6 linked regions of the Homo sapiens genome follow. The protein of the gene in region 1 interacts with the protein of each later gene in a pairwise test. Each region holds a gene or a part of one and is shown on either strand. Other genes may lie near its edges.

Region 1 (3,500 bases):
TTGAACCTGGGAGGCGGAGCTTGCAGTGAGCCGAGATCACGCCACGGCACTCTAGCCTGGGTGACAATGTGAGACTCCGTCTCAAAAAAAAAAAAAAAAAAAGAAATGCCCACCCCTCCCCTGCCTTACTGCCCCTAGTGCAGGAGAGTGTCCAAATAACATGAAGTCCTAAAGCCACTTTTTGGATTCCGAGAAAGAGCATTTGTCCCAGGCAGTCTTAGCTGGGTGACCTTCAGCAAGTCTCGTTTCTCCCGAGTCTTACATTCCTATTCACACAAGAAGGTATCAACTCCCACTTACACAGCACTTTGCCATTTCAAAGAGATGTTTTTAGTGATTCGTTTTTTTAAAAATCTTCACAGCAACCCTTTAGACTGGCCGAGATCATTATCCTCACAGGGATATTATTCTCTTAAGGGTCCCTGACGCCGGACGCTGCTCCCAGCACAGAAGGCGGGCGGATGCAGCTACAAGGCCCACCTGCTTGGCCTGCAGCCTTGAATGTGCCCTGCTCCAGCAGCTGGTCCCCTCTCACTCTGCTCTGCAGCCCTGCTGGACTCTGTGATCTGTCAGAGTGAAGAGGGCTGGAAGGGCAGCTGCTGCTCAGCTCCTTGTATGGAAATAGTTGCTCACGGACAGATAAATGCAAAGACAAGGTGCCTGCATGGTGGGCAAGCCCTCCAAAAACTCAGCCAGAGAGGACAGGACCAACAGTTCAACCGTTCTGTCTTTCAGGGATGCTTACAAACTCCCAGCCTGCCAGAAGGTCTCTCCTCAAAAATTAGAGGGAAGTGTCTTTTTTTTTTTTTTTTTGAGACAGGGTCTTTCTCTGTCCTCCAGGCTGGAATGCAATGGCATAATCACTGCTTATTGCAGCCTCAAACTCCTGGGCCTAAGCGACCCTCCCACCTTAGCCTCCCAAGTAGCTGGGACTACAGGCACATGCCACCACGCTTGGCTTGTTTTTATTTTTATTTTTTTGTAGAGATGGAATTTCATTATGTTGCCCAGGCTGGTCTCAAACTCTTGAGCTCAAGCGATCCGCCTGCCTCAGCTTCCCAAAATGCTGGGATTACAGGCGTAAGCCTGCTGTGCCCAGCCTGGGGTAGGTGTCTTAAAGAACATCCCATCCCTCAAGTACCCAGATAACTTCACAATATTTTAAATTCTTTTTCTCATTCCTTCTTCTTTTCTTCTTTCCCTCTGTCTTTCCTTCCCTCCCTGCTTCATTCTGCAAGTATTTATTGAGAATCTGTTATGTGCATTGAGCTAGGTAATAGAGGGCCTTAAAAGATAAAGGAAGGCGGGGCGCGGTGGCTCACGTCTGTAATCCCAGCACTTTGGGAGGCCGAGGCAGGCGGATCACAAAGTCAGAAGATCGAGAACATCCTGGCCAACACGGCGAAACCCCGTCTCTACTAAAAACAAACAAACAAAAAACAATTAGCTGGGCGTGGTGGCGGGCGCCTGTAGTCCCAGCTACTCGGGAAGCTGAGGCAGGAGAATCGCGTGAACCCAGGAGGCGGAGCTTGCGGTGAGCCGAAATCACGCCACTGCACTCCAGCCTGGGCGACAGAGCGAGACTCTGTCTCAAAAACAAAAAAGATAAAGGAAATACCGACTTTGCCTTCAAGCAGTCCCCAGGCTGGGATGGGACATAAACACATATAAACAAGGCAGGACCCACATTCCACAAGCATGGTAACTTGCTGTAAGTTTCGAGGAAGAGAGACTACTTCAACTGAGGTAGGAGAGGCAATCTAGAAAGGCATCACCTACGAGATGAGGAGGCATTGTTCTGACCTCGAGAGATAGGCTGAGTTTGTACTCAGAGAAGGTTGAGGTCTTCCAGAAAGAGGCACTGATAGGCAAATGTGTCGGTGTGGGGGTGTACATATAGGAGACAGAGTTAGCCGTTGGATGAGATCATGAGATTCATGTTTGCACTGACTATTAAATACCTTGACATAAGAAGTCAGTGGGGGCTGGGGTAGTGGCTTACACCTGTAATCCCAGAACTTTGGGAGGCTGAGGCAGGAGGATCACTTGAGCCCAGGAGTTTGAGACCAGCTTGGGCAAAATAGTGAGACCACTGCCTCTACAAAAAACAAAAATAAAAAGTAGCCAGCCATGGTGGCAGGCACCTGTAGTCCCAGCTACTCCAGAGACTGAGGTGGGAGGATGGCTTGGGCCCAGCAGGTAGAGGCTGCAATGAGCCATGATTGTGCCATGACACTCCAGCTTGACCAACAGAGTGAGACCCTATCTCAAAAAAAAAAAAAAAAAAAAAGAATTAAAAGGTACTGTTTCCTTGGATCAAGCCTGGAGATTGTCAATTTATTTTTAACATCCCTTTTTTTATTAAAACATCAATTCTCAAGATTTTCTCTGCCACAGCTCACACACCCTACTAAGACCTGTATACATTTCCATGGCCTAGCTGAAGCACCCCCCTCAATTCATGTTCAGAACACATCCTGGGATGCGAGTGGGTAAAGATAGCATCATTATGGGGACAACCTGCCATTTGATCTAATCCATCTTTAAAAGGCAATCATTCTCAGACTTCTGGATTTAAGAATTATTGAGCAATATTTAGCAATACAGCTCACAACAGGTTGTGTAACATGTCGACATGTCTTGCCTCTGCAGCTAAAAGTGCCAAATGAAAAGCAGAATTCTAAGTCGACTGTGGTTATTCTCAACATCCAATGCAAACATTTAAGGCTGTCACTTGAATAGTTTAGCACTTACTCATTTTCTGAACTAATTGTTCCGGAATTTCTCTAATCCTTTTATTAAATTATTTCCATTTATAGCATCATTTATCCCCCAATAACCAACCACCAGCTGTTATCAGATTAAAGGCCACATGTGTGTTTGTGTGTCTGCCAGGGCTGATCCTGCCATTCCCACATGCTCACACAGAATTACACTGACTAACCCCACCTGCTCTGCCGCACCTAAGAAAGCTCATAACTGGTTCCATTTTCAAAAAAAGCCTGGTTGACAGTAATTTATTTACAAATACTCAACTTTTTCTCATGTTCCCCACTATCTTTTTCCCTATATACACACTATATATACATAATCTCCGGGTCACTTTCAACTTTGTAACCAGAATAATTTAGAGACTGCTCAAGTTTTTATTTAAAGAACTTTTAAAAAAAAATCCACTAACTGTCCTTGCTCCTTCTTAACATATTTTGTGATGAATTGGATCAATCTAGAAAATTCTTTTTCGTTGGGGTAGACTGAATAATAGCCCCCCAAAAATTGTCAATGTCTTAATCCCCAGAACTTATAAATAGATTACATTACATGGCAGAGGAACTTTGCATGAGTGATTAAGTTAAAGACCTTGAGACAAGGACAGTATCCCAAATTTCCTAGGTGGGCCTAATGTAATTGCAAGTCCTTATAAGAGGAGGCAGGAGGTCAGCAGGGAACAAGATGTTACACTGCTGGCTTTAAAGATTCAGGAAGGGGGCCATGAGCCA
Region 2 (4,768 bases), on another chromosome or scaffold:
TACAACTGAGCTACGGGGTCAGAAAGTGTTGAGCAAACACACCTTTTTCCTTGGAAACCATTTCACTGCTGGGCTTACCTTAAATGAAGCTCTTATCAGTTTCTGTCCCTCCCTCTCTCCACCAAGGAAAACTTTTTACTTTTTTTTTTTTTTTTTTTGAGACGGACTCTTGCTCTGGGCGAGATCTCAGCTCACTGCAACCTCCACCTCCCGGGTTCAAGTAATTCTCCTGCCTCAGCCTCCTGAGTAACTGGGACTACAGCAGCTGTGATTACAGGCATGGTGGCCCAGCTGATTTTTGTATTGTTTTTAGTAGAGATGGGTTTTCACCATGTTGGCCAGGATGGTCTCAATCTCTTGACCTCGTGATCCGCCAGCCTGGGCCTCCCAAAGTGCTGGGATTACAGGTGTGAGCCACCGAGCCTGCACCACCAAGGGAAACTTTATGTAGCCGGCACTGTCTTCCTAAACGTGCTGGGCCCTGGTGAGTTGAGTGAAGGAGTCCATGAGGCCACAAGAGGGCAGCAAATAACATAAAACTCATCAAAACCCTAAAACTACAGGCCTCTAAAATTGGCTTCTGTGTGGCCATCTAATCCTAAAGAAAGTCATTTATTGATGTCTGCCAGGCGTGCGACCCAGTGTAAGGTCAATGTGTGAAGAATTAGAAGGCAGAGTACAGCCTGCCTCTTTGAGGTGGGGTTATATGTGTTACCTTATCCAGACATAGCGATCTCAGATAACAGGCCAGGAGCACCTCTTGTTAACAGTTCTATGTATATGGAGAGGTAGCTCCGATGTTGTGAAAAAGATGCTTCCTTGGTTAAAATATGAATGCCAAGAGATTATTTCATTTATGTCTTCCTAGCACAGCGCCGGTCACCGGGAAGGTACTCAGTAAATGTGAATGAATGAACAGACACGGTACTGTCTAAAATGAACTCACCCCTAAAGGCGACAATGTTTTCAAACGTTAGTTATTTGGGCTAATGCAGGAATATTTCACGCTTTTCAAGACATTTCTCTATTTCCATGTTAGCGTTGGAGTCAGGCACGCGTTAGTAACATCGTTTCCCAGGCAGAGACTCAGCTGCAACCGAGGCCTTGACCGCCCTGGGAGGAATTTTCTGCCCATGTGTTTTTCATTTGGCAACAGGTTCGCCGGTCACGTCAGGTTACTACGGTGTCAGAAGATCTTTCTTATCTGACTCAGACTTCCACAACAGTAAACAGTTTTCAAATGACGTCTACACCTCCAGCGTGGGGAAGCCGTTTCCCTGTGAGTCCTCCGCAGGGCAGAGCCATGCGGCTCTCCTGGAGCCCTACTTCCCCCAGGAGCCCTACGGAGACTACCGGCCTCCGGCGCTGACGCCCAACGCGGGCTCTCTGTTCAGCGCCTCGCCCCTACCGCCGCTCCTGCCACCGCCCTTCCCCGGAGACCCAGCTCACTTCCTATTTGTGAGTATGCAGAGACCTCGTGTGAGGGAGTAAAAGAGGGGCGAGGCTCGCCCTCTGGCCAGCCGCTGTGCTTGGCATCCGGGTTGAAGCCAGGTCTGGCTCACCCTGTAGACTCCAGAGGCTGCTTTGCAGCTGCCTAGAGATGCCAGGACACCCTCCGAGGGAGCCTTGTTCAAGGATCCCTGTTAGCCATGACAGCCAGGAGCGTCTACGCAGGGCTTGGAACCGGGAGGAATGTGCAGCAGGATTTATATCCATTTTGTTAATGCTCTACTGATATTGCCTGATGTTCCCCCACCCTGTTAGTGCCAGTCGTCATCATTCCTGCAGCCCCTAAGGAAGGAACACTGAAGCTGCATCTCAGACATGCTAGGCAGTAATGAGATGGATCATAATCTCCCAAGGAGGGTACATAGGGCTCCTCTTTCTTTCCAAGTCCCCTGCCTCCCCTTCCCCACATTTTTAGCCTAAAAATCCTTGTTCTCTCTCAATCCTTCCAAACAGGTGAGTTCATAAAGATCTGAAGATTGCTAATGCTCATAGAGAATAGTAAAGGTTTCTACCACAAAGTAATGAAGCTCTAAAGACAGGAGTTTAGACAAAAGGGAGAGGATGAGAATTCACATTATTAAGTATACTCTATGCCAGGAAATGTGATGTGTTCATTCAATACTTGCAACAACTCAGGATATATTTATGAAAGTCCCATTTTACAGATGAGCAATGTCGGGCTCAGAGTCAGGAGGAGCCACGAATGAATCCAAATCTTTCTAGCTCCAAACTTACGGGATTCCTACCTCTTTCCTCCTGCTTTAATGAGGACAGAGTGGGCTTCTCAGTCCCCTCAAAAATTCACCATGGAGTTGAAGGCCTACTCCGAGGAGTGGGCCAAGCGCTGACCTTCCCCACTGTGTAAATGGCATTCTAGGACCCAGACTAATGGGAGACTCAAAAAGAATCCAAGACAGAGTGCATTGCACACAGTAAAATGTTGCATACATGTGCATTTTATTAGTCTCACATTTCACTCATTTAATGTTGTCTTCTGGGAAAAGGAATCTCAATATCTATAGCAAATCTAATTCTAGAGTAGGAAGGGAGGAAAACTTTCACTGCTGGTGTCAAAAGCCGGAGAGAAGAGCAGCCTGAGAGCCAGGCTTCAGGCAGCAGAGAGAGGGGACGAAGGCTGCCCTGAAGCCACAGTCTGGCAGCACACAATGTATCATCAGAGTGTCACCTAGTGAATAACCTCCGTGGCCTTTCCATTCTCCTCAGAGGGACTCATGGGAGCAGACGTTGCCTGACGGTCTCAGCCAGCCTGACCCTGTGTCTGCCGATGCCCTGCTGACCTTGCCACCCAGCACGAGTTGCCTCTCCCAGCTTGAGTCCGGGAGCATCGCCCAGCACAGGGGCTCAAGCTGGGGGTCATCCCTGGCTGGGGCTCAGTCATACTCGCTGCATGCTCTGGAAGATCTGCACCACACTCCGGGGTACCCTACCCCGCCTCCTTACCCCTTCACCCCTTTCATGACGGTGTCAAATGACCTACCGCCCAAGGTGGGGCCACTCTCCCCAGATGAGGAAGCAGACACCGGTTCCCTCCATGACCCTTCCCCTTGGGTGAAAGAAGATGGGAGTATTGCCTGGGGGTCATATGAATGCCGCAGAGCTTATTGAGGGGAGGGCCAAATGACTTCTGGGTTTTTCTTTAACTTGAGGTGTATTCCAAAGATTGTTTTAGGTGTGTCAGCCCATTCAGGACTGGATTTTCAGAATAAGCCTCAATGCTGCTCTTTGTTAGTGGACGAGGGCATTTATTTGTAATCCTCTCCACTGTAACCCCACTGAAATAAAACAGAATGTTAATTAAATGTGTCAGAGACCGTATTCTAGTAAGATAACCTTACAATGTGGTCTTTTTGGAACTGTTGTAACCCATTACGTTCTGAATCTTCTGTTATCTTTGAAGTATCATTTTTGGCACTGATTTTTCTTAAATTACATTAAAAAGTTTATGCAGATCATAAAAGATACTGATTTTCCTGTCAGATGTTTCTTAGTTTTAAACTATGTGTATTCTGCAGTAAAAGACACTGGATAGGATATAATATAGATATGACCACATAAAACTCATTTTATAGCATGTGACTTGAAAGAGTGAAGTGTTTCATATACATATATTTATGGCTTATTATAGTGACTTGTAAAACCCCAGTTAAAAAAAAGGTACAATCTATAAATATGTTATTGTCCATAAAATAGGATGAGATCAGGAAACTATGGCTTTGTACATAACAAAGTTATTTTTTGACTCTATCCTAAAGCCCAGAATGTCCCCAAATTAGTTCAATCCAAAAAAGTCCAAAAATTTTCTTTGATCAGTGATGGCCTTAATTAAACCAGACATTGTCTCTCTGATGGAATAAACCTACAGTTATCAGCATGAATGAGTAAAATAGGCATTCTGTAATCAAATGGAAATTTTTTTTTTTTTTGAGACAGGGTCTCACTCTATCACCCAGGCTGGAGTATAGTGGTGTAATCATGGCTCACTGCAGCCTCAATCTCCTGGGCTCAAGGAATCCTCCTACTTCTGCCTCCCAAGTAGCTGGGACCCAGGTGTATGCCACCATGCCCAGCTAGTGTTTTTATTTTTTACTTTTTTTTTAAAGTTTTTGTAGAGACAATGTCTTACTATTTGCCCAGGCTGGTCTTGAATTATTGACCTCAATCTATCCATCCACCATGGCCTTCCAAAGTGTTAGGATTACAGGCGTGAGCCACCACACCCAACCAAATTCATACCCTTTAAAGAAAATACAGAAAATAGGACTAAGCTGTTGGCAAGAAACAGACCACAAAACACCAAGAAGCAAAAGGACTTTGGAGAAGGACATATTGCCATGTGTGAGCCGATGGCTTGACAAACAGCACCTCCTATTTGGTGGCTTACTAGTCGGAAAAGTGCAGCTCTTACTATGTGTCAATGAAGATATTGACATCTGAAGCATGAATCTGTCCACATTGGATTGGTGTGGGTTCCTTTGCTAATTGGGTTCCCAGCATAATTCCAGCATGCCTATCTGCGGCCAAGCTCATCATACATGCCTGGTATACACTGAGACTTTGCAGATGCATGAGTGGAGGCCCCCGGGTTGTACCTGCACCCTTCTTCTTAGCTTCCTACCACCTGTCTTTCTGCACTTCATTCTCACATCTTTTCCACCCTCTGGTCCCTCCTGATCCAATGCCATTTCTCTCCATCTTCTGGAGGCCAAGGCCTTCATTTTCCCTCTAGTTGCCCAAAGAC
Region 3 (4,749 bases), on another chromosome or scaffold:
GTCACACACTGAACCCTAACCCTGGTCACACACTGAACCCTGACCCTGGATGTACACTGAACCCTGACCCTGGTCACACACTGAACCCTAACCCTGGTTGTACACTGAGCCCTGACCCTGATTGTACACTGAACCCTGACCCTGGTCACACACTGAACCCTAACCCTGGTTGTACACTGAACCCTGACCCTGGTTGCACATTGAACCCTAACCCTGGTAACACACTGAACTCTAACCCTGGTTGTACACTGAACCCTGACCCTGGTTACACACTGAACCCTAACCCTGGTTGTACACTGAGCCCTGACCCTGGTTGCACACTGAACCCCGACCCTGGCCACACACTAAGCCTTGATCCTGGTCATAGATTGAGCCTAGACTCTGCTCACACACTGAGCCCTGGTTATAGGCTGTGTGGTGAGCCTGATCCAGCCTCATCAACTCCTGCATCTCACCCACCTGGCTTTCCAGGGACAGGATCCGGCTCTGAGCGTGTTCCAGCTTGGCCAGGAGGTTGAACTTGTCTGAAGTACCAGAGAGGAGATCCTGTGGGCAAAGCACAAACTCACATTTGGCCCCAGCTGGAGGCTGTGGCAGTGTGAGCTTGGGAAACCATAAGGTATTGAGGAAGAAACCAGTCAGGCCTGAGTTCAGACTGAGCTCCCGAGGCAGAGCGTCAGACCTGGGCCGAACCCTCTTCTGGAAGTTCAGAACAGGGTCTGGCATGTGCTTTTTTCACAGCTGTTTCCCACACAGATTTTGAGAATACGAAGTTTTGACACAACATTTTTTTTAATGTAAAATGCATTAGGGAGCCCCCTATAATTAACGCACTGGGAGTCTTTGAGTGAAGTGAAGAACCTGTGAGGCAGTTGACCTCATCCCTCACACTTTACCTGGATGTCCATGAGTCAGGTGTGCTTTCAACAGAACTCACCTCCGGCGAGTCCTGGGATGGAGAGAAAACTCTCCTGTGCCCCTGCCCTGCCCAATATTCTGTGATTCCAAATGTTCTGCTTTGGGGTTTATGTAAAGCAAGGGGCCCCTGAAGCATCTTCAGAGGTGGAGCAGGGCCTGGGCATTTCTGGGCCCTGGGCCACCCACCTGTGCGGGCAGGGTCTCTGTGCACTCTGAGTGGCCTGGGCCATGCGTCTCTTGTAGCCTCTCTGTCAAGTCTCCTCCTGCTCCCAACTCCCCGGGGTCCACCTGGGATGGAAAAGGGCTCTCCAAGGCTGCACCAAGACCAGGGAATGCTCCAGAAGGGAGTTTTGAGAGGCCTGTGTAGGGTCCAGGTGGAGGCCAGCCAGGTGAAAAAGGGGTCAGGGTTCAGGGACCAAGGGTCAACAAGGGGCTTGCTTTCTCCTGGGATGCTAGATGAGGTTAAAGGTGAAGTGTTCGGGGACACACATTCCGCAGGAGAAAAAGACCAAGGCCTGAGAGCTGATTCCAGGAGCCCCCAGGCAGACTGGAGACCCTGGGAAGCTTAGCTCCTGGTCTTGATCTTCAACTTGGGTTGTACCATGGGTGATTTCTGGGCACCCAGTGACCGGCATAGGCAGGCCCAGGTCAAGGGCCTCTTACCGGCAGGGCCTGTTGCTGCAGAATGATGGGGGCCTGCTGGTGGCGGTTCTTATCCAGCTCCGTCCGCAGCTTCGCGTTTTCTGCCAGCAGCACCGAGTAAAGTTCAACCGGCAGGTTCTCTCCCATAGAACCCAAGGGAAGGCCAGAGGCTGAGAGCATAGGGAAGCCTAGAGACACGGCCACAGATGTTGGTGAGATGGGCTCTCCTGCTTCCCATGTCCCTGTCCTGATCTGCTCCAGCATTTTGCTTCAATCTGCCACCCCTCCCCTCTACTCCCAAGCCTTCAATGGCTCCCTACCACCAGTGGGATCAGGTGCACACAGGCTGTCCTTCTAGGCTCTTTAGAACCTGACCTCAACGTTCTCTCTAACTCCTCATTTGTCTTCAGTGTATTTCAGCTCCTCACCTCTCTCTCTTCCTCCCTTCTCTGATCCTGGAATTCTTCTCACTCCCTGGGCCTTTGATCTGGCTGTTTCCCCTCCCTAGGTTGCCTTCTCAGTCTCATCCAGACTCCTGGATGACCTCAGGCTTCCTGAAAGGCCAGCCCAGCTTTCATTGCATTCTAAAGGCTCCTAGAAACACCCTCCTGCCCCTGAGACCCTCAGCGGTGAAGGCTAAGCACAGGGCTGGGCACACAGGGGCCCTGGGTGAGGTTGCACAGGCAGGCTCAGGGAAATCCCTTGCTTTGGGCTGGCCTGATATGGTGTTACCTGGTCCTTTCTGCTTATCAGAGGCTGATTGGCAGTTTTAGGTGGCTTTTGGTTAATATCGATGGGGAAGAAAACCTCCAAATCATTTATTTATTTATTTATTTTGAGGCGGAGTCTCCCTCTGTCACCCAGGCCGGAGTACAGTGGCACAATCTTGGCTCACAGCAACCTCTGCCTCCTGGGCTCAAGTGATTCTCCTGCCTCAGCCTCCCAAGTAGCTGGGATTATAGGTGCCCGCCACCATGCCCAGCTAATTTTTGTATTTTTAGTAGAGATGGGGTTTCACCATGTTGGCCAGGCTGGTCTTGAACTCCTGACCTCAAGTGATCTGCCCTCCTCGGCCTCCCAAAGTGCTGGGATTACAGGCATGAACCATTGCGCCTGGCCCCAGATCATTGATTTAATCAAAGTATTTTTGTTTGTTTGCTTTGCAGAGGCAGAATCTTTGGCGGTATGGGGAAATAATTCGACGGATCCTGGGGCTAGGAGCTGGGAAGTGTTGCCCCAGGTGGCCCTTCTTCAGGGGAAGGCCCTCTCTGCTGTGCTAGTCTGCAGGGCCCTCCTCTGGAGGTCCACCCTCTTTCTAGCCTGGCTCACACTGCATCCCAATTGTGTTCTGAGGGGCTTCCAGGGAAGGAGGGAGCTCAGGGGATCTCTGGATGGGGCGCCTGAATGAGGAGGGGAGCAGGGCAATCCTGGGTCTCCCAGGCCCACAGACATAACTGAGTGCAGGGGACCTCTTCGCAGGTTCTCCTGAAGCTGAGAGGCTCCAGGAAGGCAGGGCCTCCAGGGGTGGAGCAGAAGCTGGGGAGCTGATCACATCAGGGTGTGGACCCACCCGTGTAGGGCTTTCCCTGCTGCCTGTTCAGAGGAGGGGGCTTGCTCCTGTCCTGCAGCCTGTCCTCCAGCACCCGCTCCATCTTCTCGATCACCTGGAGAGCAGAGCAGAGGCTGGGCTGGCCCAGGGGCTCCCTACTCTGCCATCATCAGTTGGCCTCGGGGGCAGCCCCTCTGCCACCTGCCTTCTCTTGGTGCCGCACAGTCTCCTCCAGCGCCTTCATCTTCTGCAGCTTGCCCTGGTACTGCTTCAGCAGAGCGGCCTGTGGCTGCTGGGCCTGATACAGAAGGAGCAGCTCCTTCTCTCGATCATTCTTCTGTGAGATGGGGGAGGAGAGAAGGGGAGAGAATGGGTGCCTGGGAGTCCACCTTGGCCCTGAGGGTCCACCTCGGCCCCTCTGCTGAATCCTCCACCAGGCTGGTCCCCCTTTCTTCCGTGCTTCCATTCCCTCTGTGCCTGTTCTCCCTTCTCCTCCCAGACTCTTCTCACCCCGATGCTCCCCCACCATAGCTCCCTCCCCTCTGCCCCCACAAGCCCCAGCTCACTCGAATCAGCTCATTCTGCAAATGCTGCACCCTGTCCCTCAGTTTCTTCATATCCAGCTCACTCAGCAGCAGTTTCTGCTTCATGGACACTGTTAGGTGGGTTGGGGAGCTGGCTCAGGGAGGAAGCCTCTCCCAGCTCAAATCAGCATGGTCAGTAGCAGGAAGGCAGATATCCCTTGGCCCGAGGGCTTGGGACGGGACTGGATTCTCTGTTTCCCATCCCTGAGAGGACCCAGCTGGGCAGGGACTGTGTGAGTGTCTGTGGGCGAGGGGCTCCTATTTGCCAGAGTCCAGCAGCATGCACATCTGGGAGAAGCTCCCAGCCACCCTATTGCACAACCTGGAGCCTGGGCCCAGGCAGAAGCCCGGGTGCCCTTGGTGGCCTGCACATCCTCACCCGTGTTCTGGGCCTCACTGGCTTTGCCCTGCCCCTCTTCCTCCTCCTGCTGGGCCAGGCGGCTCCTCAGTATGCGGTTCTCTCCTTCCAGGATGCTGGCCTGTCTCCGCAGAGACAGGATGTCCTCTGCCATCTTCTGCATGGCCCGCCGGTAGTTGTTCATCTCCTGTGGATCCCAGAGCCCAGAGCTGAGCCCACTGCCCCATAGCAACCCTGGTCCCACATCCACATCTACACTTGAAAGTCAGTGGGTCCCCCACAAGGCCAGTGAGCACCAGGAGCCCCAAGCCATGGCCCTAAGTCTTAGCAGCTCCCTGGAAGGGTGGTTATGACTTGATCCTCACCCATCCTGGCCATGTGAGGGCAGCCACACTAATGTTCTCTCCCCGGGGCCACATCACGTCCTGTGATACCAACTCAGGGGGAAACCCCAGGTGTGGACACAGGGGAGGAGGCCTATGGGCAATGGAGACTTGAGAAGATCCAGGGCCAGGTTTGCAGGGTCTGGCTCGATCATAGCTATTTCTTCACCTTTTCCCTCCTCCTTCCCCATCTTCTAACTCCTCTCATTCCTCACGTCACTGAGAACCCAGGGAAGAACCTCTCAGAAATCCCACTGGATGCCACTTGGAAGGTGACTGGGCATCAGCCCTCCAAACAGCTCAGTAGTCAGAGGA
Region 4 (5,091 bases), on another chromosome or scaffold:
TTTTTTTTTTTTTTTGGGATGGAGTCTTGCTCAGTTGCCCAGGCTGGAGTGCAGTGGTGCGATCCCAGCTCCGCCTCCCAGGTTCACACCATTCTCCTGCCTCAGCCTCCCGAGTAGCTGGGACTACAGGCTCCTGCCGCCACCACACCCAGCTAATTTTTTTTGTATTTTTAGTAGAGACGGGGTTTCACCATGTTAGCCAGGATGGTCTCGATCTCCTGACCTTGTGATCCACTCGCCTCAGCCTCCCAAAGTGCTGGGATTACAGGCGTGAGCCATCGCGCCCGGCCCCTAGGTCAGCATTTCTATACGGCACACGTGCCCATGGTTTGTGCCCTGTTACAGAACAATATAGTAGTGTCTCTTAGTGAGTCCAATACAGTCAGTTTCCTCCAGAGAAGAAACATCACTGTTAATTCGGTTGCCCACAGGATGACGTTGTTGGCTTGCATTTGAGAGCCATGTTGTATGAAAAGTAGATACTTCTGTTCTATTTCTAAAGTTTTCTATTTTTCTGTTTCTAAATGTGGGCATTCGCAGAATCACACTCGTCTCAAGAGGGACCAGTCAGTAGACTCATGTCTCCCATTGATGCAACCGTCTGTATCACATCAACTGATCCTGCTCTCCCACCCCTCCTCTCTCTCTTTCTAAACATGCATTGTTGAATTCTAGCAAGTTAAAGGAGCTTGGGATGTGGTAGCATTATCCTGACCCGCTAGGTTGTGCAATGTGAGCATCAAGTGCAGAGATCAGAGATCAGTATGGGCTAGAGTGGTCAAAAAGAATTTGTTGAGGAGGTAGGGCTTAAAAGAGACTTGGCATGATCTTGAAGAATGATGGCATCTGTTTAAAGCACAGGGAAAGAAGGGCACCCCAGGTAAGGAGAATGACATGGGCAAGGCAGTGGAGGTGGGCACAAGCATGACATTGAGGAGGCCGGTGTGATTAGAGAAGACGCTACTTTGGAGGCTGCTTTAGGAAGTCAGGTTGAGTAAGGCAATGATTTCTTGACAGCCATGCCAAGGAGTTTATCTTTGATGTCTTAGAAAGCTGGACCCCACTGAGGATACTTGAGTAGGAGAGCAATGTGTTGAAAGTAGCATTTCAGGTGGGTTGATGTTCTACCATGTGGAGATGATGGGGCTGGAGCCTGAGGCCGGCCAGTGAAAATGCTTTTGCCTCTTGGTGTTCAGAAAAAAAGTCTGAACTAGGATGATTTGCAGTCTGGCTAGAGATACCATTCCATTTTATTTTTTATAGTAATATGTGTGTGTGTGTGTTCTTATTTCAAGGCAATCTATGTTGTAGAATGTTGAAAAATACAGTTAAGCTAAAAGAACATTTGAAAACATTCACAATTTACCACTCAGAGGTAATTTCTGTTGACTTTCCATTTACCTCCTACAGTTTAGATAATTTTCTATGCATATATGAATTTCTTTTTTTTTTTTTTTTTTTTTGAGACGGAGTCTCGCTCTGTCGCCCAGGCTGGAGTGCAGTGGCGGGATCTCGGCTCACTGCAAGCTCTGCCTCCCGGGTTCACGCCATTCTCCTGCCTCAGCCTCCCAAGTAGCTGGGACTACAGGCGCCCGCCACTACGCCCGGCTAATTTTTTGTATTTTTAGTAGAGACGGGGTTTCACCGTTTTAGCCGGGATGGTCTCGATCTCCTGACCTCGTGATCCGCCCGCCTCGGCCTCCCAAAGTGCTGGGATTACAGGCGTGAGCCACCGCGCCCAGCCTGCATATATGAATTTCTTCCAAAAATAGTATCATGTTATTTTGTAAACTGTATTTTTCACTTAACAACATCTCTTTACGTCAATACATATTTTCATTTTATAACATCTTTTTTTTTATTTTTAAGAGATGGGGCCTCACTGCGTTGCTCAGGCTGGAGTGCAGTGGCTATTCGCGGTCGCAATCATAGCACACTACAGCCTCGAACTTCTGGCCTCCAACAATCCTCTTGCCTCAGCCTCCTGAGCAGCTGGGACTACAGGCACCATACCTGACTTTATAATATCTTCTTTATTTTTTTTTCCATTTTTCCCCCCAATACTCAGGCTTGGAAATATAAAGTCTTTTTTTTTTTTTAATAACAGAAATATAATAAGAGTGCCTATTTATTTCCCCACTAATCCATCTCTCTAGATGTAACTGTCATTCATGTTTTGATGTATATCCTTCCAGATATTTTTAATGGATAAATAATTTCAAATATGGAAATACATATTTAGATAGATAGCTTGGCCAGGCGCGGTGGCTCATGCCTGTAGTCCCAGCACTTTGGGAGGCCGAGGTGGGCGGATCACCTGAGGTCAGGAGTTCAAGACCAGCTGGGCCAACTTGGTGAAACCCCTTCTCTACTAAAAATACACAAATTAGCCAGGCGTGGTGGCAGGTGCCTGTAGTCCCAGCTACTCAGGAGGCTGAGGCAGGAGAATTGCTCGAACCGAGGAGGCGGAGGTTGCAATGAGGTGAGATTGTATCACTGCACTCCAGCCTGGGCAATAGAGCGAGACTCTGTCTCAAAAAAAAAAAAAAAAAAAAGATAGATACCTGACACCTGTTTTTGTTTGCTCTCTTTTTATGGATTCTATTTTTTTGAAGAATGCTTTTAACTAATAACATTGATATAGTCAAGTTTGTATCTTAAGGATATGTTCCTAAGACTAAGAAGAAACATAATATTTTGGGACACAAAGAGGCCTGGGAACTTAGGTTTTCTTAGAAGACACATCCTTGAAGATTGCTGGAAACGTTCTTCTCTCTTTGTGCTGACTCCCCCAGGCGATCATTGAGGAGGCTGAAATTCGATGGAGTGAAGTTTCGAGAGAAGTGCATGAGTTTGAAAAAGATATTCTAAAAGCCATATCCAAGAAGAAAGGGAGTATTTTGGCCACTCAGAAAGTGATGAAATACATTGAGGACATGAACCGCCGGAGGGTAAGTTGGCAGACAGAGCTTAGAAAGGGAAAAAACATTCTTACAGGGATGTTATGGAAATCATCCATGTGAAGCAGCCTAGCTCCCTTTGGTCCACCATAAATGTTGCCCACATATGCGGATTTTCTTTGCATCCCTGAAAGTGTATGTGTATATGCATGTTTTAAAATGTATGTTTATGGCTAGGTGCAGTGGCTCATGCCTGTAATCCCAGCACTTTGGGAGGCTGAGGCGGGTGGATCATCTGAGCTGGAGGACCAGCCTGGCCAACATGGTGAAACCCCATCTCTACTAAAAATACAAAAATTAGCTGGGCGAGGTGTTTGTGCCTGTAATCCCAGCTGCTCGGGAGGCTGAGGCAGGAGAATCGCTTGAGCCTGGGAGGCGGAGATTGCGGTGAGCCAAGATCATGCCACTGCACTCCAGCCTGGGCAGCAGAGCAAGACTCCGTCTCAGAAAAAATAAATAAATAAATAAATAAATAAATAAATAAATAAATAAATAAATGCGTGTTTATCAAGGCTAACACCAGCCAGGCAGGAGGTATACTAACAGTACCTCAGATTGATCTCTGTTTTTTGTTTTGTTATTTGTTTCAAGATCTGATATATTTTCTTGAGAAAGGTATGAGACTGGTCTGGTCCAGCCTATCTAGAGAGGTGACTGTGGAGTAGGACAGGTAAATCTCTTTTTCAAAATTTTAAAAAAACCTTTAAAAAAATTGTTATAGAGATGAGGTCTCACTGTGTTGCCCAGGCTGGTCTTGAACTCTTGGGCTCCAACAGTCCACCCACCTTGGCCTCCCAAAGTGCTGGGATTACTGGGTGAATCTCAAGCTCTTTGAGATCCTTTGTTATCAGGAGATGGACCTTGGGCTGTTATGAGAAAAAAGGAGAATTTGGGGGGTAACCTTCATTTCCAGAGATTTTTACAACACGTCAAGCTTTAGATCCTGGAGACAAGGTAGGGTTATTACTAATCCTAATATGTTAACAGTAATAAAAATTATGTAAACTACCGTGGGAATACAAGACCAAAAAATCGTAAGATCATTTTGTCAGGAAAGGCCCCTACAGTAGCATACACCCAAATAATCTTGAATTTGAAAGCAATATAAAATTTGCATGGTGCAAAACCAGTGTCCTCTGCTTCTTGGTCATGAAATGTCATACCAGCCCCAGCTTGAGTAGAAGTAAAAGGACCTAAAATAAGTGACAGAATGTTAGGGCTCAAGGTTTGGTTTGCAGCCCCAGAACCATCCACTTTTCAAACCAATGGGAAAAAGGAGAGAAATGGATTAAATGCATTAAAATATGCCTTTATGTTTTAGGATAATATGAAGGAGAAATTACGTTTGAAAAATGTTTCTCTCAAAGTTCAGAGGAAAAAAATGCTTTTACAATTGAGGCAGGTATGTGGTCCTTTTTCTCTCTCTCTCTGTTTCTTTTTAAGGTTACTGTGGTAGGCTGAATAAGGTTCCCACCCCCACCCCAAAATATCCATATCCTAAACCCTGGAATCTGTGAATACATTAACTTACATGGCAAAAAGGATTTTGCAGATGTGATTAATTTAGGATCTTGAGATGGGGAGATGGTCTTGAATTACCTGGGTGGGCCCTATATAATCTCCCTCCTTATCAGTGGGAAGCAGGAGGGTGGGAGAAGCTATGATAACAGAAGCAGAGATCAGAGTGATGAGCTTTCATGAGAGGGAGAAGGGGTCAGGAGTCAAGGACTGCAGACAGCCTCTAGAAGCTGGAAATGACAAGGAAACAGAGTCTCCCCTAGAGCCTTGGGAAGAAATGCAGCCCTGCTGAGATCCTGATTTGAGCCTCCCAACCCATTTCAGACTCCTGACCTCCAGAACTGTAAGATAATAAATTTGCATTAAAACCACGAGGTTTGTGGTGATTTGTTACAGGAGCAACAGGAAACTCATATGATGACTGTGCAGGCAAATCAGAGGTTTTCTGTAGACAGAGTTGGCGTGAATTTAAAAGACCCTCAAGACATACTTGTTGGCCCTTTCTGGGAATATGGCCTGGTGGCACAGTTATATGTGCTTTGGTGTGTCTAGCATCGCCATCAGCTGACCCTAATGGCTCCTGATGAAAGGCAGTAAGGCAAACATGGTTCCA
Region 5 (5,737 bases), on another chromosome or scaffold:
TTACCGCAGGCAGCTCTTTCGCTCTTCAGAAAGAAGCTTTGAAGACACGACAGGACAGAGTACACGCCCCTCTCCCTCCTCCACCCCGTCATCTCCTGCCTGAGTCACTACATTCCTTAAAAGATAAATGACCCGAGTTTTGGCCTTTTCCTATATGTAAGATAACATCTGATGGGATTAGCGATGATGCCTCTGTAATCTATAAGCAGGATTACTCTCACACCCACACTCTGATGTGAGTCTGCTTTAATGTGACTCCTAAGCAAGTTCAATGTGATTTTGCATGTGCTGAACCCATTTCCCCCAAACAGAAAATCACAGTCTCGCAAATGTATCCTTCTCTCTTCTCTCTTACTTCCTACCTAAACTAGAATATTCTCCTTTTCCCCTCCTCCACTGAAATCCCACTGTCTCATTCAAGAATCATTCTTTCACTGCCAGAGACTTCACGGGTATTTTTTAATTTATTTTTTATTTTTTGAGACAGAGTCTTTCTTTGTCACCCAGGCTGGAGTGCAGTGGCGCGACCTCGGCTCACTGCAACCTCTGACTCCCTGGTTCAAGCGATTCTCCTGCCTCAGCCTCCCGAGTAGCTGGGATTACAGGCGTGTGCCACCATGCCCAGCTAATTTTTTGTATTTTTAGTAGAGACGGGGTTTCACTGTGTTAGCCAGGATGGTCTCGATCTCCTGACCTCGTGATCCACCTGCCTTGGCCTCCCAAGTGCTGGGATTACAGGCATGAGCCACCGCGCCCGGCCATGGGTCTTTCTTAGACTCTCTGTGTGCCAAATAACTCCGCCTTGGTATACGGTCCTGGGCAGCAGTCATTCTCCTGACTATGAAGTGATGCTTCGGGAGGGCAGTCATCAGTTAAGAGGCTTTTGGTTGCAAGTAAGAAACAGCCCAATCCAGAGTGGCATAATCAATAAGGGGAATTATTGGCTCACAGAGCTGAGGCCTAGAGTAGCAGCACTGCCTGCAGGCAGGACTCAGTACTGTCACCGAGAACCTATTTTCAGCTGGGCGTTGGGGTGCATGGCTGTAGTCCGAGCTCCTTGGAAGACTGAGGCAAAAGCATCCCTTGAGCCCAGGAGTTTGAGGCCAGCCTGGGCAACCCTGTCTCAAAACAAACAAACCAACCAACCCTCTATTTCCTGAGGTCTATCCTCTCTTTCTCTGGGAATAGCTTCAGTGTTCCCAAAAGGCTGTCAGAGGCTCTCAGAACTATCAGCTTTCTTATTCAGGCATAGGAAGAAAGAGAAAGCCTATATCCCAGGATTCCCAACCAAAGTCTCCAGATTCCTGCTGATTGGAGAGGTTCAGGAACACGCCACTGCCTGACCAACCCCTGGGGCCAGACGGGGATGGAAGGGGTGACTGACACCCACTCTACCCCTGGAGGTGGGTACTTTGGCCTCCCTATCCACATGGATCTGCCAACTGAAACAGGACCTGGTAGAAGCGGGGTATGAATGTGGGGGAGACACATCCAAACGTGCCTGCATACCAGGCATATAACCAGTGCACAGTGACTGGCAGAGGCCTCCAAATACGAGCCCCTCCCACAAGCAGAATCTGGACTTCTGTTCCTTTGTTGCCAGTGTCCACACCTCTCACTCCAAATGGTCACAACACCTCTGCTCCTCAACAGAGTCCTGCCTGTTATAGACAAACAGGCCCACACCTTTGGTTATTTTGGTTTAGACTAGGGACAAATTCTATCCTAGAGTCCCCAGGCCGCCAGTGGCTCCCCCATTCCTGCCTCTAGTGTGTACAGGGAGGACGCCCTCAGTTTCTGCGGAGGTGGCTCCTCCCTCACAGGAGTCTCCTGGGATCCGTGAGGGCTTCCCACCACCACTGACTCTTCCAGCAGTGGAGCAGCCTGAGCTTTGGAGAACTGAGGCTACACTGGCCTTTTTCCCTTCTTCCTCCTCCTCTTCTCTCCAAAGGGAAACCTGGAGAACACCCCCTCCCCCATCACTTCCTGCCCCACCCCTACCTCCCAAGGCCTCCTGTCCCCCTCTCCGCATGCTCGGTGCACTCACTGGCCACAGACGACAGCGTCCCCAGGCTGCACCCATGGTAACCGGCGTGGCAACCAGGAGTCGGTTGGGCTGAGACCCTGAGCCCCAACTGTCAGAAGGAGCCTGAGGCTGAGGTGGAGGCTGGGAGTTTGGGGCTGTGGGTAAGTCCTTGTGGGGTCAGACCTGTGGACTTGGGCAGGGGCAGACCCTCACGGGGCTCTGGTGGGCTGCAGCAGTGCGGCTTGATCTTGGGCCCTGGTGGCAGCTGTCTCCTCTGAACAGGGCTGGAAAGGGGATGGACGGCCCTGAGATCTCAGCTTGCCTGAGGCCAGAACTAGCCTTGTAGGTGGCCGGGGAGGAGGAAGGAGGAAAAATACTAACATAAGTTGAGCTGCTGAATACGCCAGGTGCTTTCCATGTATTCTATCCTGAGTGTAACTGGAGAGCAGAGGTTAAGTGAGCACACAGCCAGCAGGCTGTAGGGGAGGATTTAAAGCTGGGCTGCTCTAAACTCACAGCACTTGCTCTTCCAATCCCTTCCCTGTTTCCTGAGTGGAGGTTCCCAAGGCAGGTGACTCAAAGAGGAAACTGTGAGAGTTTGTGGGAGCAGGTAGGGCCGTGCATGGACTCAACTGTCCCCAGAGGCAGCTAACTGCAGAGCTGAGCCCTGCCTCGCCCCGGTGGCCACTGCTTGCTTCAAGCTGCAGCTCAGGTAATGGTGGTGCCTATTCTCAGGTGGATCCTCTGAAGGCCATGGAATCCTCCACGGGGCCCAGGATGCCTTTGCTCAAATACTGCAGCGTGGCCACAAGCCTGAAGGCCCCTGGCTGGGACGGTGCTGCTCCACCTTGGGACCTCTCCTTCACCTACCCCTTTGCCCTCCAAGCACCCTGGCTCACCGGGCACAAGCCCCTTGCAAGGTACCTGTCTCTGCCCCTCTGGGGGAAGTGGATGCCCTTTTCTTTTTCCTTTGTTCTTGGCTGTTGGTGGTAGACCTTGGTGGACAGACTTGCTTCCTGAGAAGGTGGAAAGGGGTCGTCATTGTTTGGCCTATGATTGGCATATCTGTGTGGGGTCTGTCACTCCAGCCTACATTGTGCTCCCAGAGCCCTCCAGGGTTGATCTGGCTTTAGCAGAGTTGCAGATGCTGCAGTTGGCATGAGTAAGAGAAGGCAGTTAGGGATAGCCAGTTACCAAGTTTATAGCTCATTTTACCATCAATGCTGAGACTTGGCTGGGCGCAGTGGCTCACACCTGTATACAATCCCAGCACTTTGGAAGGCCGAGGCAAGCAGATCACTTGAGGTCAGGAGTTCGAGTCCAGTCTGACCAACATGGCAAAACCCCATCTACTAAAAACACACAAAAAATTGGCTGGGCATGGTGGCTCATGCCTGTAATCCCAGCACTTTGGGAGGCCAAGGCAGGTGGTTCACCCAAGGTCAGGAGTTCGAGACCAGCGTGGCCAAGATGGTGAAACCCCGTCTCTACTAAAAATATAAAAATTAGCCAGGCATGGTGGCGGGTGACTGTAATCCCAGCTACTCAGGAGGATGAGGCAGAGAATTGCTTGAACTCGGAAGGTGGAAAGGTTGCAGTGAGCCGAGATCGCACCATTGCACTCCAGCCTGGGTGACAGAGTGAGACTCTGTCTCAAAGAAAAAACAATAATTAGCTGGGCGTGGTGGCACATGCCTGTATTCCCAGCTACTCAGGAGGCTGAGGCAGGAAAATTGCTTGAACTCGGGAGGCAGAGGTTGCAGTGAGCCGAGACAGCGCCACTGCGCTCGAGCCTAGGGAACAGAGTGAGACTCTGTCTCAAAAACAAAACAAAACCAAAAAAAAAAAAAAAGAGACTTGCTCAGCCACCATATGAGAAATCAGCTAATGTGGGGTCTCCAGGTCCCTCTTCAGGTTCCCTCGGTACCCCTCCTTTGTCCAGGATTTTCCTGAATAGGATCCTCAGTCTGCTTTCTAAAGCGTGGATACAAGAGGCCAAAGGCACCACAGCCCTATATACACATGTGGAGCGTGTCATCTCCAGGGACTCGCATTCCTGCTGCCTGATCCATTCTGCCCACATTAGGGACATGCCAGCTTGAAAGATCCTTAATGGCTCCCTTTCGTGATCCACCCGGTGGACCATCCTGTTCAAGGCTAGAGTTAAGCATGGGACTTTAGATGCCAACAAGCACAGGAAGGAGGCTGAGGGGGGCTGAGGGCAGCTCAGCATGGGTCTGCAGGAGCTCCTCAGCACGAACAGCCTGGGTGCAGTGACGGCATGTTGATGGCAGCAGGAGGCAGACAGGCCCCCTTTGCATTCAGCCTTGCCCACAAAGTAAAATGGCTTCTTCAAAAACCCAAACCCTGACTCAACAACTCCCCTAGGCCAACTGGCCCTGACCACAACATTTTCTGGAACTAGCATCTCCTTTTTCTGTCCCACAGCCCCTTAGCTCCTCTGGGTTGTCCCTGCCCAAACACTTCCTCATCCCTCTGACCCCACAGCATCAAGTGGCATTACAATTTCACACCCTCGGCATTACTATCCAAGCTTCCACGCCTCATCCTGGAATCCCACACGCCGCCTTAGGATTGACCTACCTGGCACTTTTTTTTTTTTTTTTTTTTTTTTTTGAGACAGAGTCTCGCTCTGTCACCAGGCTGGAGTACAGTGGCGCAATCTTGGCTCACTGCAACCTCCGCCTCCTGGGTTCAAGCGATTCTTCTGCCTCAGCCTCCTGAGTAGCTGAGACTACAGGCACCCACCACCACGCCCACCTAATTTTTGTATTTTTAGTAGAGGTGGGGTTTCACCGTGTTGTCCAGATAGTCTCGATCTCTTGACCTCGTGATCCGCCCATCTCGGCCTCCCAAAGTGCTGGGATTACAGGTGTGAGCCACTGCTCCCGGCCCCTGGCACTCTTTTCTTTTCTTTTTTTTGATAGGGGTCTCACCTTGTCACCCAGGCTGGAGTGCAGTAGTGTCATTTCAGCCCACTGCAACCTCTACCTCCCAGATTCAAGCAATCCTCCTATCTCAGCCTCCCAAGTAGCTGGGATCACAGGCTCACACCACCACACCCAGCTAATTTTTTGTATTTTTGGTAGAGATGGGATTTCACCATGTTGCCCAGGCTGGTCTTGAATTTCTGAGCTCAAGTGATCCATCCACATCGGCCTCCCAAAGTGCTGGGATTACAGGCTTGAGCCACACTTTTCCAGTCTGTTGTCTAGTGTAGGAACAAGCATCAATTAACTTGAATGTATCAAGGCGAATTACATTTTGGTTGCCTTGAACCAACTCCCAATCCACCAAGGATGGTTCCCTTCACTGTCCTCTCCTTCTGCCCCTCCCGGAGGTTTACCTTATCCTTCCGGAAGTCATAGATTGCCACTTTCCATATGGATTTCTGTTCCGCATGCCTCATGTGCTGTGGTGTACCTCAGATGTACCTGCGAAACGTGTTTCTTGATGTGTTTAGGGCTTGTTGCTCTCTATCCACTAATTCCATTTGCTTTTTTCCAGGCATGCCTCTTCTTGCCCATGTCTCCACGTTGCCGACCCAGCATGGCAGGGGCCTGGCTGGCTGGGAAGAGCTGGAGATGCTGCCAACACATGGGTCCTAGCAAGAAGGGAAGCAGATGGTTTTTACTACCGGGCCCAAATAAAGGCCACTCCCGAGGCAAGTCCCTGACCCCAGTATCTCCC
Region 6 (5,774 bases), on another chromosome or scaffold:
ACACACGCAAAACATCCAGCAGAAGGCCCAAGACACGACAGACACTATAAATGGGGGCTACAATTCTTTTCACTTTATGTCACTTTGAATGTCCCTGTGGTAGGATTCAAAGTATATCTCAACAAGACATACTCTGTTTTTTTTTTTTTGAAACAGAGTTGCTCTGTCACCCAGGCTGGAGTGCAGTGGCACGATCTTGGCTCAAAGCAACCTCCGCCTCCCAGTTTCAAGCAATTCTCCTGCCTCAGCCTCCTGAGTAGCTGGGATTACAGGCACGTGTCACCATGCCCAGCTAATTTTTCAACAAGCTATTTTTGAGGCTGATAAAACTTAACACTCCACTGTCCAACCTCACGCTGATCGTTCTTTTAGGTTGCTCATGCCAGCCCTATGGTCAGTATTTCTGTCTGTTCCAGAGAGGTTCATCTCTCTTTTCCTCTTCCTTTGAACACCACCTCTTCCAGGGATCCTTCCCTGACACCCACAGCTGTCTGCATTGACTTCCAACATAACTCGTAACTCAATGAATTAAACAGCTGACATGTCTCCCCACTGGACTCCCGATGCGAAAAGCCAGCATGCAGACAGATGCCTTCCACCCGGGCCCTAGTGTCCCGCACGGAGGAAGTGCTCTGAGAAGGGGATAAATGAACACATGATCTGTTCCAAGCAAAACATCCCTCCTCTGTGGCAGCTTCTCCAGTATCTCCACAGGGAAGCAAAACCCACAAAAGGCCAGAGTGGAGAAGCCAACAGACACTACCTGGTGCTCAAATGAAAATCTGGCGTAGTGGCTCACACCTGTCATCCCAGCACTTTGGGAGGCCAAGGCAGGCGGATCACTTGAGGTCAGGAGTTTGAGACCAGCCTGGCCAACATGGTGAAACCCCGTCTATTAATAATACAAAAAAATTAGCCGGGCATAGTGGCGCATGCCTGTAATCCCAGCTACTCAGGAGGCTGAGGCAAGAGAATCACTTGAATCTGGGAGGCGGAGGTTGCAGTGAGCCAAGATCGCACCACTCCACTCCAGCCTGGGTGACAAGAGCCAAACTCCGTCTCAAAAAAATATCCATGGAGGCAGATATTTTCTTCTCTCCATTTTTTTAACTTTCTCCCCATTCCCTACCTTCTCTCAACTGCCTATCCCTCCCCCAGTTTTACAACATGAAATGAAAACAGCAAATCTCTCTGAAGCATGTTTTTATTTCTCTGTGATTTGGTTTTCTACTTTGGTACACATGAGCTGTGGCTGCATTTCACACAGAAGCTGACACATCTCGCAGGAATGCCCCATAAAACAGAGCGCAAACAAATCACCCAGCAGGTTCGCTTCACCTGGCTGTTACTGCTGAACTCCCTACTTCTAAGAGCACAGAAGAGAACATCGCTTTGAATCTACAGATAAGCGAGGGTGGGGCGAGCAGCAGCCAGGGCTGCCGGGATGGGAGCGGCCACAGACACAGGCCCCCGGGTGTCTGTCTTGAGATACAGGTGGAGAAGCCGCCCAAGAAATTCCAGCAAGATGGGAGCAGCTGGGGGATGCTCCAGCACAGTAGCCTGCCTATAGGACTCCTCTGGCTCCCTCAGTCCTGGTAGATTCTGGCATGACACCAAGGCCAGCAGTGCTGGCTCTTGGCCCTGTCACTGTGTCTGTTTTATCCTGGGGCCCCACAGCCCCTCTCCTGGGCAGGAGCTCCGCCCCTCCCCTTTTCATCACCCCCTTGGTCCCCAGCAAACCCACAGCGAGACCTACACAGGTTTTGCCCAGCTCTAAAATGTCTTGCCCTCAAAGGCCTGGAGATTGAAGGCAGTATCCAGAAACTTCTTCAGTGACACCAGGTGAGTGTTCCTGTTTCCTGTGGCTGGTGCAGCCGCTGGGTCCCGGCCAACATACCTGGAGGAGGAGAGACAAGCTAAGGGGAAGGCGGGGCCTAGCCGCCCCCCAACCGCTGCCCTCACTCCGGGACTGCAGGGGGCACGCATCTGAGAACCGCTGACCTCGAAGCCATAGACCCTGCCTTTTGGCCCTGGCACCACTTCCAATGAGCTGCAAAGCCCGGATCAAACTCAGTCACCTAGCCACAGAAGAGTGGGGAGAAACTGTCCCTCCATGTCACTGCACTTGCCCATGAGGACAACAAATGAGGCAACAACTCAAAGACTTTGGGGACAAACATACTTTTGGCTTCTTGGAGTTTCTCAGGACCCTCTCCCATCTTCCCAGGAACACATGATGCCAGTATTGGGAACGCACCATGTGCCAGAGCTAATACATACATCAGATCTAATCTTATCACCGCCCTTTGTAGAGATGCAGGGACTAAGGCTCCAAGGACTACATAACCGGCCTAAGATCTAAGGCAGGAGTTTTGAGACATGTAGCAGGTTCCTTAATACAGTTCTGGCTGCAGAACAAACACAAAGCCAGTACTGATGATGCCCCATCATTGCTCATCACCAGAGAAGGGCAGGGCCAGTTCTGGGTAGCATGGCCTATGGGACAGATGGAGCCAGGACAGAGCCTCAGGGCCGAGGTGAGGGGCAATCAGCGGCCCCACCATGTACCATATGGGCCGTGCGCGCCTCAGGATGGTCATGAAGCGTGGGCTGATGTAGTCATAGTAGCCCATGTTCTTGTGCTCCTCCTGACACCAGGCCAGCTCCGCACCTGGGTACTTCTCTGCCTCCTGCTTGATCAGGTCGAAGGGGAATGGAGAGATCTGGGGAGGCAGAAACAAAGGAGCATAGCCAGAGGAGGGGCGGTATGTCCCCAGCACCCCCGGACAGGAGGCACAGGGCCTCACCGGCCTTCATCTGGCCTGCCTGGCACATTGGCCAGAGCCGGGGCCAGCGACGTGAGCTTGCCCATCACTTGACTGTACAAGGGGTTCAGGCACACCTGCTCCAGGCGCGTGATGGCCACTTTCTCCTCCAGGTCCTGGCTGCTCCGCTCCTTCACCAGGTCATAGTACACCTTTCCCGTGCAGAAGATGAGCCGCTGCACCTGCTCAGGGGCCCGTGCTGCGGCCCCATCTTCAGGAATCACCCGCTGGAAGCTGGTCCCTGAGGGACCAACAGGACATGGCAGAGGCGTTGGTACCCAGAGGGGCTGGGGCAGCTCAGGACCAGGCCTGCATCCCCAGGCTCTCCTTAGCCACTGACACTAACTGCAGGTTTGGACTTGTGGCTGCAGTGGACACCTCTTGAACTAAAAGATGGAGCAGGGGGCAGATGACACCCTGAGCTGTCATAGGGAGAGGGGTGGAGACACCCAAGGGTTGAGCCCTGGAAGCATCACGTTTAAGGTGACCGGAGGTGGGGGTACAATAAGAAGCGCCCTGAAGGAGACAGAGAAGGCAACATGATGGCATCATCCTTTGCCCCAACCTTGCTTCTGCCCAGCTGCGCCCACCTCCTGCAGAGCACTGCAGTCCCCCACCACTAAGCAGATGTCCCAGGAGGCTGCTGCATGCTCCTCCTCTTTCAGCCTGGCAGCTGAGCTTCACCTCCAAGCCCCAACCATTCTTCCTTCCTGAGCCCATGATCCTGACCCCAGGTCACGCACACTGCAAAACCTCTCAGGAAGCTACTGTAGTGTCCTCACATCCCTGCATCTCAGGTGAAGACTCTGGGGTAGAGAGGACAAATGGATCCCAGGCCCTCAAGAGAGAAGCCAGCACAGGGCAGGTAGCCCAGGTAGTCCAGTCCCGACATCAGAGCTCTAACAGCTGCCCACCTGCACAGAGGGGACATCCAAACACACATGGGAGAAAATCCAACCCCTGTCCATGCTGAGGCCCTTCCCAGCCCTCCCTCTACTGCCCAGGACCATTTTCCAAGACAGCTCTGCTCCACCAGCCTCACACCTGTCCTTCCCTGGACATAGTCACCTCTCAGTTGCAACTATAGTGTTTTATCTGATCTGACTCCCAGGGAAATAAGGCCAAAGACTCCTGGAGGGGACACCAGGACCCCAGGGCCTGTAATGTCTGTTTGGCTCATGAATTTTTAAAATGGACAAATGAATGAATGATACTCAATATCTTGCGAACTCAGCAGGCCTCTGCCAGGCCTCGACCAGCCCTGCTAGGGTCTAAGGGGGCCCCAGTGGACTCTACCATGGACGCAACCCACATGACCTGAGCTGGCCCAGGTCAGCCATTGTGCCAACCTCCCAACCCTACTGCTAGTGGGACCATGCCAGGAGCTGCTGCAGGTCAGCAGAGCCACAGGCAGAGGGGAGGTTGGAGAAGCCCCAGAAGCAGAAGCCACACAATGGGCCACCGCCCCATTGTGGGCTACCCCACACACCCAGGCCAGGCACGTACCGGATACCATTTGGTCAAAGCTGGACTTGGCCTCTGGGTGCCTCAGCAGAGATTTAGGTGTGAAGATAATCAGCTGGAAGGGAAATACACGCCCAGCTGCCAGCTGGCCCTGCCTGGCCAGGCCCCCTGCCTGTGACCCCTGCCCTGGGACGGAGACTCACCGGCTTGCGGAAGGGCAGCAGGATCTGCCGGCGCAGCACGTGGAAGTAGTTGGCCGGTGTGGAGCAGTTGACCACGATCCAGTTGCAGTCATAGAGCTGGCTCACCTCGAAGTCCTTGGTGAATGCCTGTGGGGACGAGATGCATATGGCCAGGGTGGCTGTCTGCTGCACCCACACCCTGGACCCCTAGCCCTGTGGGCACAATAGGGCGCGTCCCTGTCCTGGGGACAGCAGCAACACTCACAGGGTAGGCATCCGAGTCATCATTGCTCATCTGCAGGAACCTTTCGGGCCTCGCTGACGAGTGCTCTGGGCCCTGAAAGCAAACGCCAGACAGCCAAGGCTGGACCCCACCATGGGAAAGACATCTGGCCCTGCAGGGACCCCAGGCTCAGGGGAAAGTCTGGAGGGCTTCTCAGCAGAGGTGCCCTCACCCTGGAGCCTGAACCATAGAAAAGAACCAAGAATGTGGAACAAGAGCAGAATGGGAATCCTCAGAGTGGGGTCTGCCCAGAGCTAGCACAGTATGTGAACTTGCAGGGACAGAAGAAAAAGCAAAAAGCCCGCACTGAGACGTGCTTTCTCTGGAATGTCCTGGAACAGTGGCTGCCACTGACTGAGCACCTGCTGTACAGGAGGCAGAGTTCTAGGAATCCCACACGCCTTATCGCTAACCCCCAAAGTAGCCCCATGATGCAGACACTCTTCCCCACTGCACAGATGAAGAGGCAAGGAGAGGGTAAGAAACCACCCATGACCACACAGCCAGGCAGGGGCCAACCCAACTCGGCCTGGGCCTCGCCCACCCTCACCCACACGGACCGCTCTGCTCCATGAAAGCAGCAAGACAAGCCCAGGGGCATCTCCAAGCCAGCTCCTGCAGGACGGGGATGACCCACTGCACAGCTGCCACTTGCCCTCTCTTGGTGGGGACGGCCAAGGACCCAGCCCCCCACACCCAGCCTGGCCCAGATCTGGCCTCCCAAGAAGCTGCCTTCACGGCAGGCAGCCCCAAGCAGGGAGCCTCACCTCCCTCCTCACTGATACCCGGTGTTGTGAGGATGCCGAGTATGCAGCCTGTAAAGTGCTCATAACATGCCACTCAGGGATAATGGTGGCAATGAGCCCCCTGCCTGTCTCCCTTCTGCCTGGTCAGGCCACCTGCCCACCAGATGGTATCACATGACACCCTGCTCCTTCCTCCCTTCCTGCTAGCCCAGGAGCCTCCGGAGGATGCACCCAGCCTGCATGTCTTCCCTCTGCCCCATGTGTGGCTGCAGAG

The links.
Region 2: the proteins of SMYD1 (region 1) and POU2AF2 interact in a two-hybrid assay, tested with the Homo sapiens proteins (one large-scale study listed by BioGRID and IntAct).
Region 3: the proteins of SMYD1 (region 1) and CCDC33 interact in a two-hybrid assay, tested with the Homo sapiens proteins (one large-scale study listed by BioGRID).
Region 4: the proteins of SMYD1 (region 1) and CFAP263 interact in a two-hybrid assay, tested with the Homo sapiens proteins (one large-scale study listed by BioGRID and IntAct).
Region 5: the proteins of SMYD1 (region 1) and C11orf16 interact in a two-hybrid assay, tested with the Homo sapiens proteins (one large-scale study listed by BioGRID and IntAct).
Region 6: the proteins of SMYD1 (region 1) and OGDHL interact in a two-hybrid assay, tested with the Homo sapiens proteins (one large-scale study listed by BioGRID and IntAct).

The regions. Positions count from the first base shown.
Region 1 is NC_000002.12:88,074,325-88,077,824, reverse strand, and holds part of SMYD1 (histone-lysine N-methyltransferase SMYD1), read right to left. Parts: intron 1-3,500. UniProt on the Homo sapiens protein: Methylates histone H3 at 'Lys-4' (H3K4me), seems able to perform both mono-, di-, and trimethylation. Acts as a transcriptional repressor. Essential for cardiomyocyte differentiation and cardiac morphogenesis.
Region 2 is NC_000011.10:111,282,920-111,287,687, forward strand, and holds the end of POU2AF2 (POU domain class 2-associating factor 2), read left to right. Parts: intron 1-1,156; coding exon 1,157-1,458; intron 1,459-2,733; coding exon 2,734-3,135; 3' UTR 3,136-3,482; downstream 3,483-4,768. UniProt on the Homo sapiens protein: Transcriptional coactivator of POU2F3. This complex drives the development of tuft cells, a rare chemosensory cells that coordinate immune and neural functions within mucosal epithelial tissues.
Region 3 is NC_000015.10:74,329,678-74,334,426, reverse strand, and holds part of CCDC33 (coiled-coil domain-containing protein 33), read right to left. Parts: intron 4,239-4,749; coding exon 4,073-4,238; intron 3,765-4,072; coding exon 3,676-3,764; intron 3,447-3,675; coding exon 3,315-3,446; intron 3,225-3,314; coding exon 3,131-3,224; intron 1,749-3,130; coding exon 1,582-1,748; intron 1,207-1,581; coding exon of another isoform or gene 1,105-1,206; intron 547-1,104; coding exon 460-546; intron 1-459.
Region 4 is NC_000016.10:58,255,573-58,260,663, forward strand, and holds part of CFAP263 (cilia- and flagella-associated protein 263), read left to right. Parts: intron 1-2,795; coding exon 2,796-2,951; intron 2,952-4,281; coding exon 4,282-4,362; intron 4,363-5,091. UniProt on the Homo sapiens protein: Component of centriolar satellites contributing to primary cilium formation. In complex with CFAP263, acts as a regulator of ciliary beating that connects radial spoke 3 (RS3) to the inner dynein arm (IDA) and the nexin-dynein regulatory complex (N-DRC).
Region 5 is NC_000011.10:8,929,351-8,935,087, reverse strand, and holds the start of C11orf16 (uncharacterized protein C11orf16), read left to right. Parts: upstream 1-2,140; 5' UTR 2,141-2,187; intron 2,188-2,761; 5' UTR 2,762-2,779; coding exon 2,780-2,946; intron 2,947-5,554; coding exon 5,555-5,711; intron 5,712-5,737.
Region 6 is NC_000010.11:49,733,455-49,739,228, forward strand, and holds the end of OGDHL (2-oxoglutarate dehydrogenase-like, mitochondrial), read right to left. Parts: intron 4,809-5,774; coding exon 4,737-4,808; intron 4,619-4,736; coding exon 4,493-4,618; intron 4,405-4,492; coding exon 4,332-4,404; intron 3,067-4,331; coding exon 2,903-3,066; intron 2,724-2,902; coding exon 2,569-2,723; intron 1,898-2,568; coding exon 1,774-1,897; 3' UTR 1,187-1,773; downstream 1-1,186.